2 separate regions of the Homo sapiens genome follow, and region 1 is linked to region 2. The links come from fine-mapping of genetic effects on gene expression. Tissue or cell type: whole blood. Region 2 holds a variant in brackets; the other region holds the start of a gene. All regions are shown on one strand. Distances are between the middles of the regions.

Region 1 (8,104 bases), 140 kb after region 2:
AACAATGTATCAATATTAGTTTATCAATTATAATAAATGTAGCATACTAATGCAAGATGTTAATAATAGGAGAAACCATATGGGAAAGAGTGGGTATATGGAAACTCCATACTATTCAGCCACATTGGTCAAAATTGTGTTAATCTATTTTTATTCCATTATGTATATTGTTTTAAAAACTGTATTACTGACAATTGCACTTGAGTACATACACAAAAGAAATGGAAACAGAGACTTAAACAGACATACAGATACCAATGTTCATAGCAGCACTCCTTGTAATGGCCAAAACGGGGAAACAACCCAAATGTCCATCAATGAATGAATAAACAAAATGTGGTATATTCATACCATGGAATATTATTCAGCCTTAAAAAGGAAATTTTCACACATGCTACAATATGAATGAACTTTAAGGACATTATACTAAGTGAAATCAGCCAGATACAAAAGGGCAAATATTGTAATGATTCCATTCATATGAGGTACCTAGAGTAGTCGAATTCATAGAGACAGAAAGTAGAATGGTGGTTGCCAGGCGCTGAGGGAAGAATGGGGAGCTGGTGTTTAAGGGGTACAGAGTTTCAGTTGGGGATGATGAAAAAGCTCTGGAGACAGTGGTGATGGCTGTGCAACAATGTGAATGTATTTCATGCTACAGAACTGTACACTTACAATGGTTAAAATTGTTATTTTTATGTTATGTGTATTTTACTATAATAAAAAAAGTTAGAGTGCTGAAAAACTGGTCATCCAAATTGAAAAAAAAATTGTATCTTTTCATTATACCATACATAGAAATAAATTCCATCTGGAAAGCAAAACTTTTTTAAACTTTTGGAAGAAACTCTAAGAATATATCATTAACACCATGAGAGACAGAAAATTTTCTTAAACCAGATACACACCCAAAAAAAGACAAGCCATTTAAGGGAAATTTTTCATAAATATGACATTAAACTTAAATGGTATATACAACCAAATACATTGTTAACAAAGGGAAAGAAAAGCCTAGGGCTGGCAGGATGCATTTGCAACACACAGACCCACTGAAGAATCAGCATCTAAAGGAACCCAACTGTTCCTCAGTGAGTAAAAGGACACGTGCGCTGTGATGTAAGTCCACAACCGGGCCAGGTGCAGGGGCTCATGCCTGTAATCCCAACGCTTTGGGAGGATCACTTGCCAGCCTGAGCAACATGGCGAGACTGCATCTCTACAAAAAATTTTAAATGGTGGCACGCAAGTGTAGTCCCAGCTACTTGGGAGAATCACTTGAGCCCTGGAGTGCCACTGCACTCCAGTCTGGGCGACAGAGGAAGACCCTATCTCAAAAAAAAAAAAAAGCCTACAACTGAATACACTAAGCAGTTGAAAATAAATGGATTAAATCCACAAGCAGCAACATGGTTATAGCCCCATCAGTTATGAAGTAAAACGCATACCTCTGACCCAGCAACTGTAGTTTTTCATTCACTGCAGCAACGGTCCTTAATGAGAATACTAAATAAACTACGATACATACTACATAAGAGATTGTGTAGTAGTTAAGAAGACTCAGGTTGATTCCTGTGTTCCAACATGAAAAAATCTCAAAATCATTCTGTTAGGGGAAAAAACTGCAGAACAATGTGTATGGTATGATGTCATTAATGCAGAGGAGAAAAAACTCTGCTCTTTTTTTATTCTGTATTACCTATATATACATGAAAATACATAGAGAATAGCCTGGAAAGACCACAAAAACTGATAACTTCTGTTTCTGTGAGTAGGTCAAGGGGGCCTTTATTCTGTCTATACTGTTTTGAGTATCAGATGAGTTTGTGTTCCCTATATATACATGAAAATACATAGAGAATAGTCTGGAAAGACCACAAAAACTGATAACTTGTTTCCGTGAGTAGGTCAAGGGGGCCTTTATTCTGTCTGTACTGTTTGAGTATCTGACAAGTGAGTGTGTGTTCTGAGCCACCTGCAGAGTTGCAGCACACAGTCACACAGAGTGTGCACTACACAACTCCAGCAGCTGCCAGGCACAAGGACTCCAATGTGAATGGTGCTCCCTAAAGCTGGGCAGAATACAATCTACACAACTAGGTGCCACAGCTCTGATGCTCGTGTAATTCGAAATCAATAAAAGGGAGTAGGGAAGATAGAGAATGGACTGCAAACCAGCATAAGGGAACATTCTGGGGTGATGGAAATTTCTTGATTGGAATGGTGGTTACAAAGTATACAGCAGTCTCCCCTCAGAAATAAACAATTTGTAAGTTTTAAGTTGTGTACCATTCTGAATAGCGTGACGAAATTTTGTGCCATCCCACTCTGTCCCACCTGGGATATGAACTATCCCTTTCTCCAGCATATCCACACTGCATAAGCCACCTTCTGGTTACTCACTTAGTAGCTGTCTCAATGATCAGATTGACTGTCATGGTATCACAGTGCTTGTGTTCAAGTGACCACTGTTTTACTTAATAATAAAGTGCAAGAGTAGTGATGCTGGCAATTGGGATATGCCACAGAGAAGCCAAACATATGCCTAAGAGAAGTCATTAATCTCTCATGGCAACTAATTTATAAGTTAAAACTTTATCATAGATACTTAAGTATAGGGAAAAAACAGTCTATATAGGGTTTGGAATTAACTGTGGCTTCAGGCATCCACTGGTGCTCTTGGAACATATCCCTGAGGCTAATGGGGGGACTACTGTACACATTTTTCCAAAACTCATCCAACCGCACACGGGAAATCTGTGCATTTTATTTTGTCAACTATACGTCAAAAAGTTGGTTTTAAAATAAATACATAAACAAAATATCATTGAGAGAGCCTGGAATAAGGCACCCAATATTGTAGAACCTAGGCACCTCTCAACAAGAGACCTGCTGGCTGTACAGCCCTGAAACAGGAGAAATAAATTTACTTCTTCAAGGCTTCCTATACAATGCCAGATTTTGATTATTACTTATTTTTCACACGAAGAAACTAAGGCCCTGAGAGAGTAACATAAAGACATAAAATAAACAATAAGTTGAAATTCTCTTGGTTCTGAGTCTAATTTTCTAACCATAGGTAGAAATTTGTCTCTCGGGCATAGTGGACATCCAAAAACTCTGCCAGCACTACCTTGACTGCACAACCCCTTTCAAAGGCAATTCCACTTATGCATGATAAAAATCCTTAGAGAACTCATAAAAGGTCAAGTTTTAATTTGGCAGACAAAGTAACCCAACAGGCACTGCAACCCAGGTTACTGAAACAGCAGCCTGGAGCTCCAGAGTTCAGAGATTCAACCAAGGCAGAGCACAGGTAGAATTCCAGCCCTTACAGAAAAGCAGAGGCACCAACAGCCTCGCACTACAGGTCTAAGACCCAAGAACCAGGACCAAAATGAAAAAGTGTTCTCTAGACAACACTACCCTCTTCCTTCTCAAGTAATAGAAAAAGCCAATGGGAGAAGGAACAAAATGGGATGATCTCAAGCAACAGGCCAAGGAGCAAGCTCTTGAAGGCCAACATGAAAGACACATGGGAAAGTGGTAGCATGGCCACAGAAACCAAGACCTCGCCGCCTTAGCCATTGCTTTAACGTGCCCAGACCTCAGAACCGGGGTTGCCTCGCATAGCAAAAAAAAAAAAAAAAAAAAAAAAAAAAAAAGAGGCAGAGAGAGAGAACTTGTGGAACAGGAGAAATCCAGCAACCTTCCCTAACACTAGAGTGACTGACACTGCTCCATGGCAAATGTGGCCAAACCTTGCTTGTCCATTCATTCATGCAATAGACACTTATGGCTCAACCGCTGTGAGCCAGGCAACATTCTGAAGATTTAGCAGTCAATAGTCATGGAGCTTATTTCTAGATGGGAAGGAAGGAAACTTCCTTTCTTTCCAAACGTCTTTTTTCCCCATCTAAGAGCCCCCTTTAAATGTTACCCGTAGGAGCCTTCAAAACTCTCCCAAATTTCTCCCATAGGCTTCTTTTGACCTTTCTGCTTTATCCCCAAAACCACGCAATTTATGGCTCCAATTTCCCAATACTGGGAAAAGACAAAAGAGACCGAAAGTAAATAGGGCATGCGACATAAAATTCGACGCTCCTTTGTATTTCATGTGCATATCTTCACAGCCACACTGTCAGCACCTCAATAACATGACGGTGTTCCATACTATTTCGTGGCCCCAGTGCTGACTACGGGTCTCTACCTACGGTAGCTGGAAGGTCTTCCTAATCCCAAGGCCTGGCACAGGAATTTAAGGGCAAGTATTCGTCACCGGCATCCTCGTCTCGGGACACTTCTTTCCTGTCCAGGGTGACCTCCTGGACAGGTTCGCTATTAGGCGCCTCGGGAAACAGTGATTTGGGGTGATCTGAAATAAATACCCTTCCCTCTGCCAGGGCCTGCCCGCCTCACCTGCCCTCTGCCAGGACCTGCCTCACTCGCCCCTTCAGCACCTAACGCAGAGCCGCCTCCAGGCGAGCCGGGCTCGGGCAGCATCAGCCCGGCGCCGGGCCCCCGCTCGCGCCCGTGCCCCGGCGCGTTCCGGACCCCGATACCCCTCCCGGCCCGGGATCCGCCGCATCCCCTCTGCCTGTCCCTCCGGGGCTAGCCGCGCCGTCCCACCTCGCAGCCGCGCGCGGTGCAGCGGCCCCGGCTCCCCGCGCCCTCCCCGACTCCTGCAGCGCCGCACCCGCAGGCTCCCGGGTCCCCAGTCCCGGCGCAGCGCGAGCTGCCGTCCCGCACCTCGCGGGCGCGAGGCTCCAGCCCAGCTCGTCTCCCCACAGCCCCGGCGGCGGCCGCAGACCCCCACCTTGCTCACTTCCCCGCCGGAGCAGGGGTCGTCGGGAAGGTCTCCTGCGGCCTCACTCCTCCGCACGCTCCGGCCCAGCCCCCTCGGCTGAGGCAGCGGCAGCGCCTACTCAGGCCCCGGAGCCACCCCCGCGGCGAACGTTCGCAGCGCCCGGCTCGCGCCGCTTCTCCGCCCGGCACGCGCAGCGCCCGCCCCCGGCGCGAGGGCGCGAGGGCGGAGGGCGGAGGGCGGATGGGCGGGCGCGCGCCCAGCGCGAGCGCGCGGCCGGGGGCGTGGCTTCCGCGCGCGGGGAGGGGGCGGGAGCGGCCGAGCAACCCCCCTCCACCCCGCCCCCGCGGCCGCGCCCCGCCCACCGGTCGCCGGCGGGTTCCGGGCAGGCGGGAAGCTGGCTCCATCCAGGCTTCTCCCGCTCGCTGGCGTCGGGCCGGGTGTCTTTCCATCCGCAGGTATCCGTCGGCGGGGTGCCCGGCCCGACGTGACTACCCGACAAAGAATGCAAAGAGCCACCCCGTGAATCATTCTCCGCGCCTGGGTCACAAGCCTGTGCCCGAGTGACCCCCGTGAACTCCGCAAGCTAGCCCAGCCGCGGCGTGCGCCCCGCGCTGCACCAGGTGCCTGTGGGCGCACGATCACGGTCACGGCGCCTGGGCTCGAGGCGCCCCAAACTTAGCGGGGAAAACAGCCATGTACACAACCAAGTCCGATGACCCGTGCAGAGCCAAGCCACGGTGCGATGCTGGCACAGAAGCTAGAGACGACTTCTGCTTGGACGCCGCAGAGGGCTAGAGGCGGCATTTATGGTCAACCTCGAAGGAAGAAAAAGAAGTCCTAGGAGGAAAAAGGGAGGACATTAGGGCTGGGAAAACAGTTTGGGCAAAGGAGCCGGGGCAGCCAGGTTTACCATCTCAGCACCAGCTTTTTTGTGTTTTACTGTTATCCATCTTTTATAGAATTCTTTCCAAACTGTGAAATACAGGAGATGGTGCCAAATTAGAATATAGCAAGGACTTTTTGAATGGTTCAAATGGTCATTCTCAACGTTACTTAAGACTCAAAACAGCAACGTCCTTTGGGGGCTATTGGTCAATGATGAAGGCTGTAAGCTCCAGAGCTAAGCGACCCCAGGCCTGCATGCTGGGAGTATGGTTTTCACTGCTTTTTGGCACCTTACGGTAAGGCAGATCGTGCCACCTCCTGCTGCTGCCTGCCTGCCTGCCTGCCTGCCTTTAGAACACCCTCTTCCTCCTCCTCTCCTCTTTTTATTTTTAAACTCCTATGGTGAAGGAAATGCTGATAACCAACTTTGTTAAATGGGAACAAATAGGTTCCTCAAAAGATGAGCATTTTCTGGCCTGCCGCGGAGGCTCACGCCTGTAATCCCAGCACTTTGGGAGGCTGAGGCAGACGGATCACTTGAGGTCAGGGGTTCGAGACCAGCCTGGCCAACATGGCGAAACTCTGTCTCTACTAAAAATACAAAAATTAGCCGGGCGTGGTGGTGTACGCCGTAATCCCAGCTACTTGGGAGGCTGAGGCAGGAGAATCGCCTGAACCTAGGAGGCAGAGGTTGCAGTGAGTCGAGATCGCACCACTGTACTCCAAGTCTGGGCAAGAGAGTGAGACTCCGTCTCAAAATAAATAAATAAAGATGGACATTTTACCTTTTACCTTACATATATGAAGTGTGTGAATATTTTCATGCTTGAGGAGACTTATCTCTTGTAGGCACGGTCTTGGCTATGTTTTGTACATATTAAGATACTCAGAATACAGGTAAGAGACCTCTAGCTTCTTTATTTGCCCTTTTTGAGCACCCCCTATGTGGAAGGCATTGAGAGGGGTAAAACATTGATTCTGTTCTTTGGAGAAAAGATGTGTAAATAATATAAAATAAATGTGTAAATATCGCTTGATATGTTCGGTTTATTGATTGAAACCAAGGTAATTTCAATATGTGGACTAGACAATCCTAAACCATAAGGGAATTAAATACTTCAAGGACACTGTATTGGCATCTCTCCATCTCTGTTCTCTATTTCTTCACCTCCCACATCCTCAGAAAACTTTTCAAACACCTTTCAATCATTCTCCCCCTCTCACTCCAAAATTACCAACTTCTCTTTACTTGTCTCTTTCCTTCATCATCTATTCATGTTTAAGCTTTTCCTGTCCTCAAGAAAAAGGAAGAAACCCTTTCGCTGTCCCTCTAGATTCTGCTTCAGTTACTAGTCCCTCTCTGAGTTTTCCTTCATAAATATCTTGAAAGTCATCTACCCTCATCTCTACCTCCTCAGCAGCTCCTCAGCTCCTCAAACCTATGTAGTTTCTGTCCACACCACATCACTGCATTGCTCTCAGTCATGAATGGCTTGTTGGATCCTAAATACCACAAGCCATCTCTGAGTCCTCATATTGTTAGAACTCTCAGTGACATTGAACAGAGTAGCCCACTCTTTCTGAAACTCCCTTGGTGTCATGGCATGACTCCTGTCTTAACCCCTGTGACCACTTCTCAGTTTCACAGATTCTCTCCTCAGCTGGTCTCACGCCACACATTCTCCCTGGACCATTCCATCCACTCCGCTTCTTTATCTACCGCATATCAGCAACTCCCAAGTGCACTCTCTCTAGCTCAGGCCACTCATCTGGGTTCCTTATTCACAAAAGCCCGCCAGACTTCTCCACCTGGGTGTCCTAGAGGTACCCCACGTTCTACATGTCTAAACTACTGTCCACCCAGTTGACCAATTCAGAAACTGGGGGGCCATTCTTGATTCCTTCTTCTCCCACCACCCCTCTGCCCTGACTCCATACCCAACAACCACTAAGTCCCATTGATGCTTCCTCATAAATAAATAACTAGAATCTTTCCCTCTTAGCCCACCTCCCCTAAACTAATGCAGCAGCTTTGTTTGTTTGTTCTGGGACGGAGTCTCGCTCTGTCACCCAGGCTGGAGTGCAGTGGCACGATCTTGGCTCACTGCAACCTCCGCCTCCCAGGTTCACGCGATTCTCCTGCCTCAGCCTCCTGAGTAGCTGGGATTACAGATGCCCATCATCATGCCTGGCTAATTTTTATATTTTTAGTTAGAGACGGGGTTTCACCATGTGGACCAGCCTGGTCTCAAACTCCTGGCCTCAAGTGATCCCCACCTGCCTTGGCCTCCCAAAGTACTGGGATTACAGGCGTGAGCCACTGCGCCTGGCCATGCAGCAGCTTTTTATGTGGTCTCCCTGCCAGTCTTGCTGCTTCCAATCCATCTTCCATGCTGCAGATTAGAGAAAGCTTTC
Region 2 (8,104 bases):
AAAAAGGTTAACAGATTTAACAAAAAAAAAAATTGCATTATGGGGAACAGATAAACTGTGCTATGGAACACTGTGTAGGGGTGGGAGACATCTTTTTTCCCAAGAAGAAGAAAGCAATGAGAAACCGCAGGAAAAACAACAACTGTACAAGAAAATCAATCCAGTTAAAAATTCAATAGGAATGATTTTCGGTAATCAATGGTAGGTAAGAAAGAAGAGCCCAGTGAACTCCAATGAGACAGTAACTGCACAAAAGGATCCACAGAATTGCAGCACACTATGTGACTGTGTAATGAAGGATACTAACTGTAAATGCCATTATTTGGCTTTATTAGATTTAACCCTTGATCAATCTCAGAAGACTTAGTTATGGTTATCGAAGAGAATAGAAACATTCTCAGCTTTGACAACATAAAAATAAGGGCACAGATGGCAGACGTTAGGAGGCAAAGGAAAAGTAGACAGAAGGTGCTAATTTTCTGTTTACAAAGTGGAAGTCAAAAAGAAGTTATTAAGAAATAGAGTTTTTAAAATATTATTTAAAATTAAAAAGGTAACCAACTTAAAAATGGTGATATAATTATGAAAAACAGGGATGGGTTGGTATGTAGAGTTAGAGATGAGGCTGATTCATTACACCACAAAAGTAAGTCAATAATGTCTAAAACTGGCTGGGCGCAGTGGCTCATGCCTGTAATCGCAGCACTTTGGGAGGCTGAGGCAGGTGGATCACTTGAACCCAGAGTTCAAGACCAACCTAGGCAACATGGCAAAACACCGTCTCTACTAAAAATTAAAAAAAATTAGCTGAGCATGGTGGCCTGCACCTATAGTCCCAGCTACTTGTGAGGCTGAAGTGGGAGGATCACTTGAACCTGGGAGGTGGAGGCTGCAGTGAGCCGAGATCACACCACTGCACTCCAGACTAGGTGACAAAGCGAGACCCTGTCTCAAAAAATAATAATGATAATAATGTCTAAAACTGATAAGTCAAGAAATGGTGCTCCAAACATATTATTTAGAAATACAGAGATAACTATTAGTAGATTTAAAACCCAAAGGACAGCGAAGTGTGGGAGGGTATGTTGCATTCATTATAAGCTCTTATGGATGAATGAATTTGTAATTCACATGCATGGATTATTTTAATAAATATAAACAGGTATCTAAATAATTGAAAGAAAAAAGGAAAAAAGATCAAGATTCTCTAGAGCTCATTTAGTCAAACTACCTTCCATCAGGGAGGTGAAAGAAAATGAATGCCCACTCCAACAGAAAAACTTCTGACACCTGATAAAGATTCGTGATCCAAAACTCTACCAAATTTATTCATCAGGGAAGCATAGTATCATCATTTAATTCAGAGTGAAGAAAGCAGTTTACAGGCTGAATCTTACCCTTCACTGTTTCTCTTCCTCCCTACTTTGTTCTTTCTCTATTTCTCAACTTTATTGTTCTCCTCTAGCTTTGCTTTACTAGCATGAATATTCAACTAAATACATATAAATAAATACATACAAAATACCAGTTTTATTTGTAGAATATAGTCTTATGTTTCCTAATTTTCCCTCAATACAAAAAACAGCAAATTAAGTTGATTTTCATTTCCATGTTGTCTACATTAATTTAAGTCCCTATGGGCATTACTGCTATAGAGAAAAAGATCTCTGCCACTGATTTAAGGAATGAACCCAAAATCACAAAAGGCAGCCCAGCTAAAACCAGAACAATAATGGCTCTTCAATGGGCTCATGTTTCTGGAGGCTGCCATATTACTCAGGCTTCAGCAATCAGGAGCTAGATTTCCATGTGGACACTTAACGGTGATTTACAGAGAAGAAAGCTTGAAGTCTTAAGTTCCCACAAAAGAAAGTAAAAACCTGAGAAGTTGAATGGTCATGTTAAGTGATCCCTGGTTTTGATCCACAGGAATTTCACAAGGCCCCCATTTCAGTGTGATCCACATGCACATCCAGGGGTATACTTACACTATATGTGCAAGGTCAAGTGGTTTCTCTGGTTGCTCAGGAAAAACAGGATGCGGGGGTTCTCTCGTGGGTACACACCCCAAAGATTTACTAATTGCATGGCTCAGCTTCTTTGCAGGAGATTTCTGTGTCAAAGCAGAAAATAGTAAGGAATTAACCCTTCAAAAGAATGAAAGGAACTTCAAAAAAGAAAAAAACTTTGTGACAAGAGTGTAAAAACATCTTTTCAAATACAAATCAAGTTTCATTACATCAATATCATTGGGCCTTTCAGAAAGGAACCTCCAGTTGTTCCAAGGTCATCTGTGGTCCTTCATTTCTGCAGTTCCTCCCTCATGTTTACTATAAAGTCACACTATCAAGTAATGTCAACTTTCCTTCTGGACATCTCTATGTACTCTTGGCAAGAACTCCCTCCTTTGATGCTTCTGGATCCTTTTTGCTAAGATGTTAACATTAATTTCCTGATCAGAGTCGGAACTTTTTGATGGAGGCCAGGCACGGTGGCTCATACCTATAATCCCAGCTCTTTGGAAGGCCAAGGTAGGTGGATCACCTGAGGTTGGGAGTTTGAGACTAGCCCAACCAACATGTTGAAACCATGTCTCTACTAAAAATACAAAATTAACCAGGCATGGTGGTGCATGCCTGTAATCCGTGCTACATGGGAACTGAGGCAGAAGAATTGCTTGAACCTGGGAGGCGGAGGTTGCAGTGAGCCAAGATCACGCCATTGCACTTCAGCCTAGGCAACAAGAGCAAAACTCTGTCTCAAAAAAAAAAAAAAAAAAAAAGAACTTTTTGATGGGCTACGATACTAAAAGGCTAAGAGCACACAGCTTATGGATGTTAGCAAATTAGCTAAGTAAGTCACATCCCCAAGATGTTAGGATATTCCCAAATAAACATGAGGCAGAACATTTGATATTAGGGGTCTGGTTATGCAGTCAGATACAGATACAGAGTACATTCACAATACACAGGCAGCACCAGACCCAGGACTCTATATTACAAAAATAAGTTGGCATACCAATACATTCTTCTGGAAGGTAGAATAATATCCACCAAAGACTACCAAGTCTAAGATTTAATCATAAATAAGCACAAAAGTAAGCAACATGCCACAATTAGGTTACACAGAACATTCACTTCTAAAACTCATATTTAAAGGAGGCTCCTTTTATACAGATTATACCGTCCACCCAATTCCCCTAAAATAACACTGTTATCTGAGATTTTCTTGGCAGGATATTAACTGTAAAAAAGTTTAAATATTTCATTCTGCTGCCTCTGCAGTTTATTATCATATGTGCCACTTTAATTGGAAAATAAAACATGGCTGCAGCTGTCTGCCTCATCAATGCCACGTCCCCAATAGACTTCTATATGCTGCTTGTTGTAGTATTTTAACACAAAGTAAAAATCTGTTTGCCTGAAAGACCATATAGGCACAGTTAATGAATACTTTATAATAAAGACTAAATAATACAATTTCTTCAGAAACTTCGTATATTGGCTCCAAATCACCTTCTACTATTCCCGTCAACATACTAAATTCTGGGAAAACTTGGTCAGGCACAGTGGCACACTCCTATAATCCCAGCACTTTGGGAGGCAGAGGCGGGTGCATCTCTTGAGCCCAGGAGTTTGAGATCAGCCTAAGCAACGTGGCGAAACCCGGTCTCTACAAAAAGTATCAAAAAAATTAGCTGGTGCGGTGGCATGTGCCTATAATCCCAGTGACTCGGGAAGCTGAGGTGGGAGGATCGCTTCAGCCCGGGCCGACGAGGCTGCAGTGAGCTGAGATTGTGCCAACTACACCCCACCCTGGGCGACAGAGTGAGACCCCATCTCAAAGAAAAGAAAAGAAAAACATTCTGGGAAAAGTCTAGATGTAACCTAATTTCCTGAAAGTATATAAAACGAAACATAGAAATTCTCAACTTCTCCCCTAACTTCTTTCCATTTTCCTTTTGCCCAACAAGTCGTGATGTGACGCTGATTCTTCCCCTATTAAAACCGTTTCTGCACTGCCCCCAGAGATCATGTCACTCTTCTGCTTAACATCCATCAAAGGCTGATAGTCACTTACAGAATGAGATCTAAATAAATGCCTTCATTTTCCATACAAAAGCTTTCACACCTGACTCCTGCCTCTCTCTCTTTCTACTTCCCACTCAC[G/A]TTAAGTGATAAGCTGCTCACAGTTGACTCAAAATACACTGTGTTCTTTTAGGTCTCTGTATCTTGGCATGTGCCTTTCCCAGGTCTCCCTTTCCCAATCTATCTTTCTGTACATTTTTTTCTCATCTCTCAAGCCTGCTGGTCAGCATCCTTTCCTCTGTGAAGACTTTCCTCACTGCTCCATACGACAGCAAGTGCCTTTCCAGGCTACCCATTTACCTGTACCTGTTTCCACTGTTGCACTCACCATGCTATACTGCTGCTACACTGCAATTTTTATTTTTATTTTTATTTATTTATTTATTTATTTATTTATTTTTTGGAAATGCAGCGTTTATTTTTTTTTTAATTTTTTTTTAAGTATTTATTGATCATTCTTGGGTGTTTCTCAGAGAGGGGGATGTGGCAGGGTCATAGGATAATAGTGGAGAGGTCAGCAGATAAACACGAGAACAAAGGTCTCTGGTTTTCCTAGGCAGAGGTCCCTGCGGCCTTTGGCCTTCGGCCCTGTTTGTGTCCCTGGGTACTTGAGATTAGGGAGTGGTGATGACTCTTAAGGAGCATGCTGCCTTCAAGCATCTGTTTAACAAAGCACATCTTGCACCGCCCTTAATCCATTTAACCCTGAGTGGACACAGCACATGTTTCAGAGAGCAGGGGGTTGGGGGTAAGGTTATAGATTAACGCATCCCAAGGCAGAAGAATTTTTCTTAGTACAGAACAAAATGGAGTCTCCTATGTCTATCTCTTTCTACACAGACACAGTAACAATCTGATTTCTGTTTCTTTTCCCCACATTTCCCCCTTTTCTTTTCGACAAAACCGCCATCGTCGTCATGGCCTGTTCTCAGTGGTCGCTGTCTCTTCGGAGCTGCTGGGTACACTTCCCAGATGGGGCGGCCTGGCAGAGGCGCTCCTTCACTTCCCAGACGGGGCGGCTGGGCAGAGGCACTCCTCACTTCCCAGTCGGGGCGGCCGGGCAGAGGTGCTCCTCACCTCCCAGACGGGGTGGCGGCCGGACAGAGGCACTCCTCACCTCCCAGACAGGGTGGCGGGTGGGCAGAGGCGTTCCTCACATTCCAGACGATGGGCGGCCGGGCAGAGGCGCTCCTCACCTCCCAGACAGGGTGGCCGGGCAGAGGTACTCCCCACCTCCCAGACGAAGAGCGGCCGGGCAGAGGTGCCCTCCACTTCCCAGATGGGGCGGCTGGGCAGAGGCGCTCCTCACTTCCCAGACGGGGCGGCCGGGCAGAGGCACTCCCCACCTCCCAGATGAAGAGCGGGTGGGCAGAGGCGCTCCTTACCGCCCAGACAATGAGGTGCTCCTCACCTCCCAGACGAAGAGCGGCCGGGCAGAGGCGCTCCTCACCTCCCAGACGAAGAGCGGCCGGGCAGAGGCGCTCCTCACCTCCCAGACGGGGTGGCCGTGCAGAGGTGCTCCTCACTTCCCAGACGGGGCAGCCGGGCAGAGGTGCTCCTCACTTCCCATTCGGGGCAACCGGGCAGAGGTACTCCTCACTTCCTCCCAGACGGGGCAGCCGGGCAGAGGCACTCCTCACATCCCAGACTATGGGTGGCCAGGCAGAGACGCTCCTCACTTCCTAGACGGAGTGGCAGCCAGGCAGAGGCGCTCCTCACTTCCCAGACGGGGGTGGCCAGGCAGAGGTGCTCCTCACCTCCCATTCGGGGCAGCCGGGCAGAGGCGCTCCTCACTTCCTCCCAGACGGGGAGGCCGCGCAGAGGTGCTCCTCACCTCCCAGAGGGGGCGGCCAGGCAGAGGCGCTCCTCACCTCCCATTCGGGGCAGCCAGGCAGAGGCGCTCCCCACTTCCTCCCAGACAGGGTTGCTGGGCAGAGGCGCTCTTCACTTCCCAGACGGGGCGGCCGGGCAGAGGCGCTCCTCACATCCCAGACGATGGGCGGCCACGCAGAGATGCTCCTCACTTCCTAGACGGGGTGGCAGCTGGGCAGAGGCGCTCCTCACCTCCCAGACAGGGCGGCCGGGCAGAGGGGCTCCTCACATCCCAGACAATGGGCGGCCAGGCAGAGGCGCTCCTCACTTCCTAGACGGGGTGGCTGCCGGGCAGAGGCGCTCCTCACTTCCCAGACGGGGGTGGCCAGGCAGAGGCACTCCTCACTTCCCATTCAGGGCAGCCGGGCAGAGGTGCTCCTCACTTCCTCCCAAACGGGGCGGCCGGGCAGAGGCGCTCCTCACCTCCCAGAGGGGGCGGCCAGGCAGAGGTGCTCCTCACCTCCCATTCGGGACAGCCAGGCAGAGGCGCTTCTCACTTCCTCCCAGATGGGGCAGCCGGGCAGAGGCGCTCCTCACCTCCCAGAGGGGGCGGCCAGGCAGAGGCGCTCCTCACCTCCCATTCGGGGCAGCCGGGCAGAGGTGCTCCCCACTTCCTCCCAGACGGGGCGGCTGGGCCGAGGCGCTCCTCACTTCCCAGACGGGGCGGCCGGGCAGAGGCACTCCTCACATCCCAGACGATGGGCGGCCACGCAGAGATGCTCCTCACTTCCTAGATGGGGTGGCGGCCGGGCAGAGGCACTCCTCACCTCCCAGACGGGGCGGCCGGGCAGAGGGGCTCCTCACATCCCAGACAATGGGCGGCCAGGCAGAGATGCTGCTCACTTCCTACACGGGGTGGCGGGCGGGCAGAGGCTGTAATCTTAGCACCTTGGGAGGCCAAGGCAGGCAGCTGGGAGGTGGAGGTTGTAGCGAGCCGAGATCACGCCACTGCACTCCAGCCTGGGCAACATTGAGCAATGAGTGAGTGAAACTCCGTCTGCAATCCCAGCACCTCGGGAGGCCGAGGCGGGCAGATCACCCGAGGCCAGGAGCTGGAGACCAGCCCGGTCAACACGGCGAAACCCCGTCTCCACCAAAAACACAAAAACCCCTAAGGAGTGGCGGCGTGTGCCTGGAATCCCAGGCACTCAGCAGGCCGAGGCAAGAGAATCACCGGAGCCCGAGGCAGGGAGGTTGCAGCGAGCCGAGATCATGGCAGTACAGTCCAGGCTCCGCAAGAGAGGGAGACGGTAGAAAGAGGGAGACAGAGAGCGAGAGCGAGAGGGGAGATGGGAGACGGGAGAGGGGAGAGGGAGAGCTTTTATTTATTTATCTGTCACCAGGCTGGAGTGCAGTGGGGTGATCTCGGCTCACTGCAACCAGCGCCTCCCGGGTTCAAGCAATTCTCCTGCCTCAGCCTCCTGAGTTGCTGGGACTACAGGCGCGTGCCACCATGCCTGGCTAATTTTTGTATTTTTAGTAGATACGGGGTTTCACCTGGTTGGCCAGGATGGTCTCAATCTCCTGACCTCGTGAACCACCTGCCTCAGCCTCCCAAAGTGCTGGGATTACAGGCATGAGCCACCGTGCCTGGCCCCATACTGCAATTTTTAATTTGTTTGTCCATCTCTGTTATACTGCTGCTTCTGAGGGGTAGGATCTACATCTTATTCATCTTTGTATTTGAACAAATTATTTACCTAGATGAATTTTCCAGATTGCTTTTACCTACCTAGTAAAACCATATAAATCTTTTTTTTTTTGAGGATTACAAGTAGATGCAATCAGAGGACATCAAAGAGAACACCTTACTTTTACCTTTATAATGAAACACTGCATCTGTCATCCATGTATTAATTTCATGATTTTTTGCTATATCTGCCATTAATTCATGCAATGTATGTGAAATGCATTATCACACAGACTACTTTAGCTCCATCCTAAAAATAATAGCCATGAAATAGAAAGGTAAAATCAATACATCAAGATGAATTCCAAATAATTAAGGCACATCAAGGGCAGCTTGGTATGTATGGGAAGGAAAAAAGACTGAAATAAAGACATGTAATTAGAGTATTAACTAAGGCCTAGGAGAAACCAAAAAAGAGATTACCCTAAAAATTTTAAAACTATGTATCCAATTA

What was found. PIP is the estimated chance that this variant, and not a neighbour inherited with it, causes the effect.
Region 1: it holds the start of DTNB, and the variant in region 2 is fine-mapped to the expression of DTNB in whole blood (TOPMed, PIP 0.91).

The regions. Positions count from the first base shown.
Region 1 is chr2:25,668,573-25,676,676 of GRCh38, forward strand. It overlaps DTNB (dystrobrevin beta), which reads right to left and starts at 5,005. Exons shown (of 21, transcript NM_021907.5): 1 at 4,814-5,005. RefSeq lists silencers at 4,454-5,383, 4,748-5,042 and an enhancer at 7,191-7,400.
Region 2 is chr2:25,529,485-25,537,588 of GRCh38, forward strand. DTNB (dystrobrevin beta) reads right to left here. Exons shown (of 21, transcript NM_021907.5): 9 at 1,989-2,113. Among named protein-coding and RNA genes, the nearest start is that of DTNB-AS1, 110 kb to the left of the region's middle. RefSeq lists an enhancer at 5,630-6,459. The variant G/A (reference allele first, on the strand shown) is at 4,170.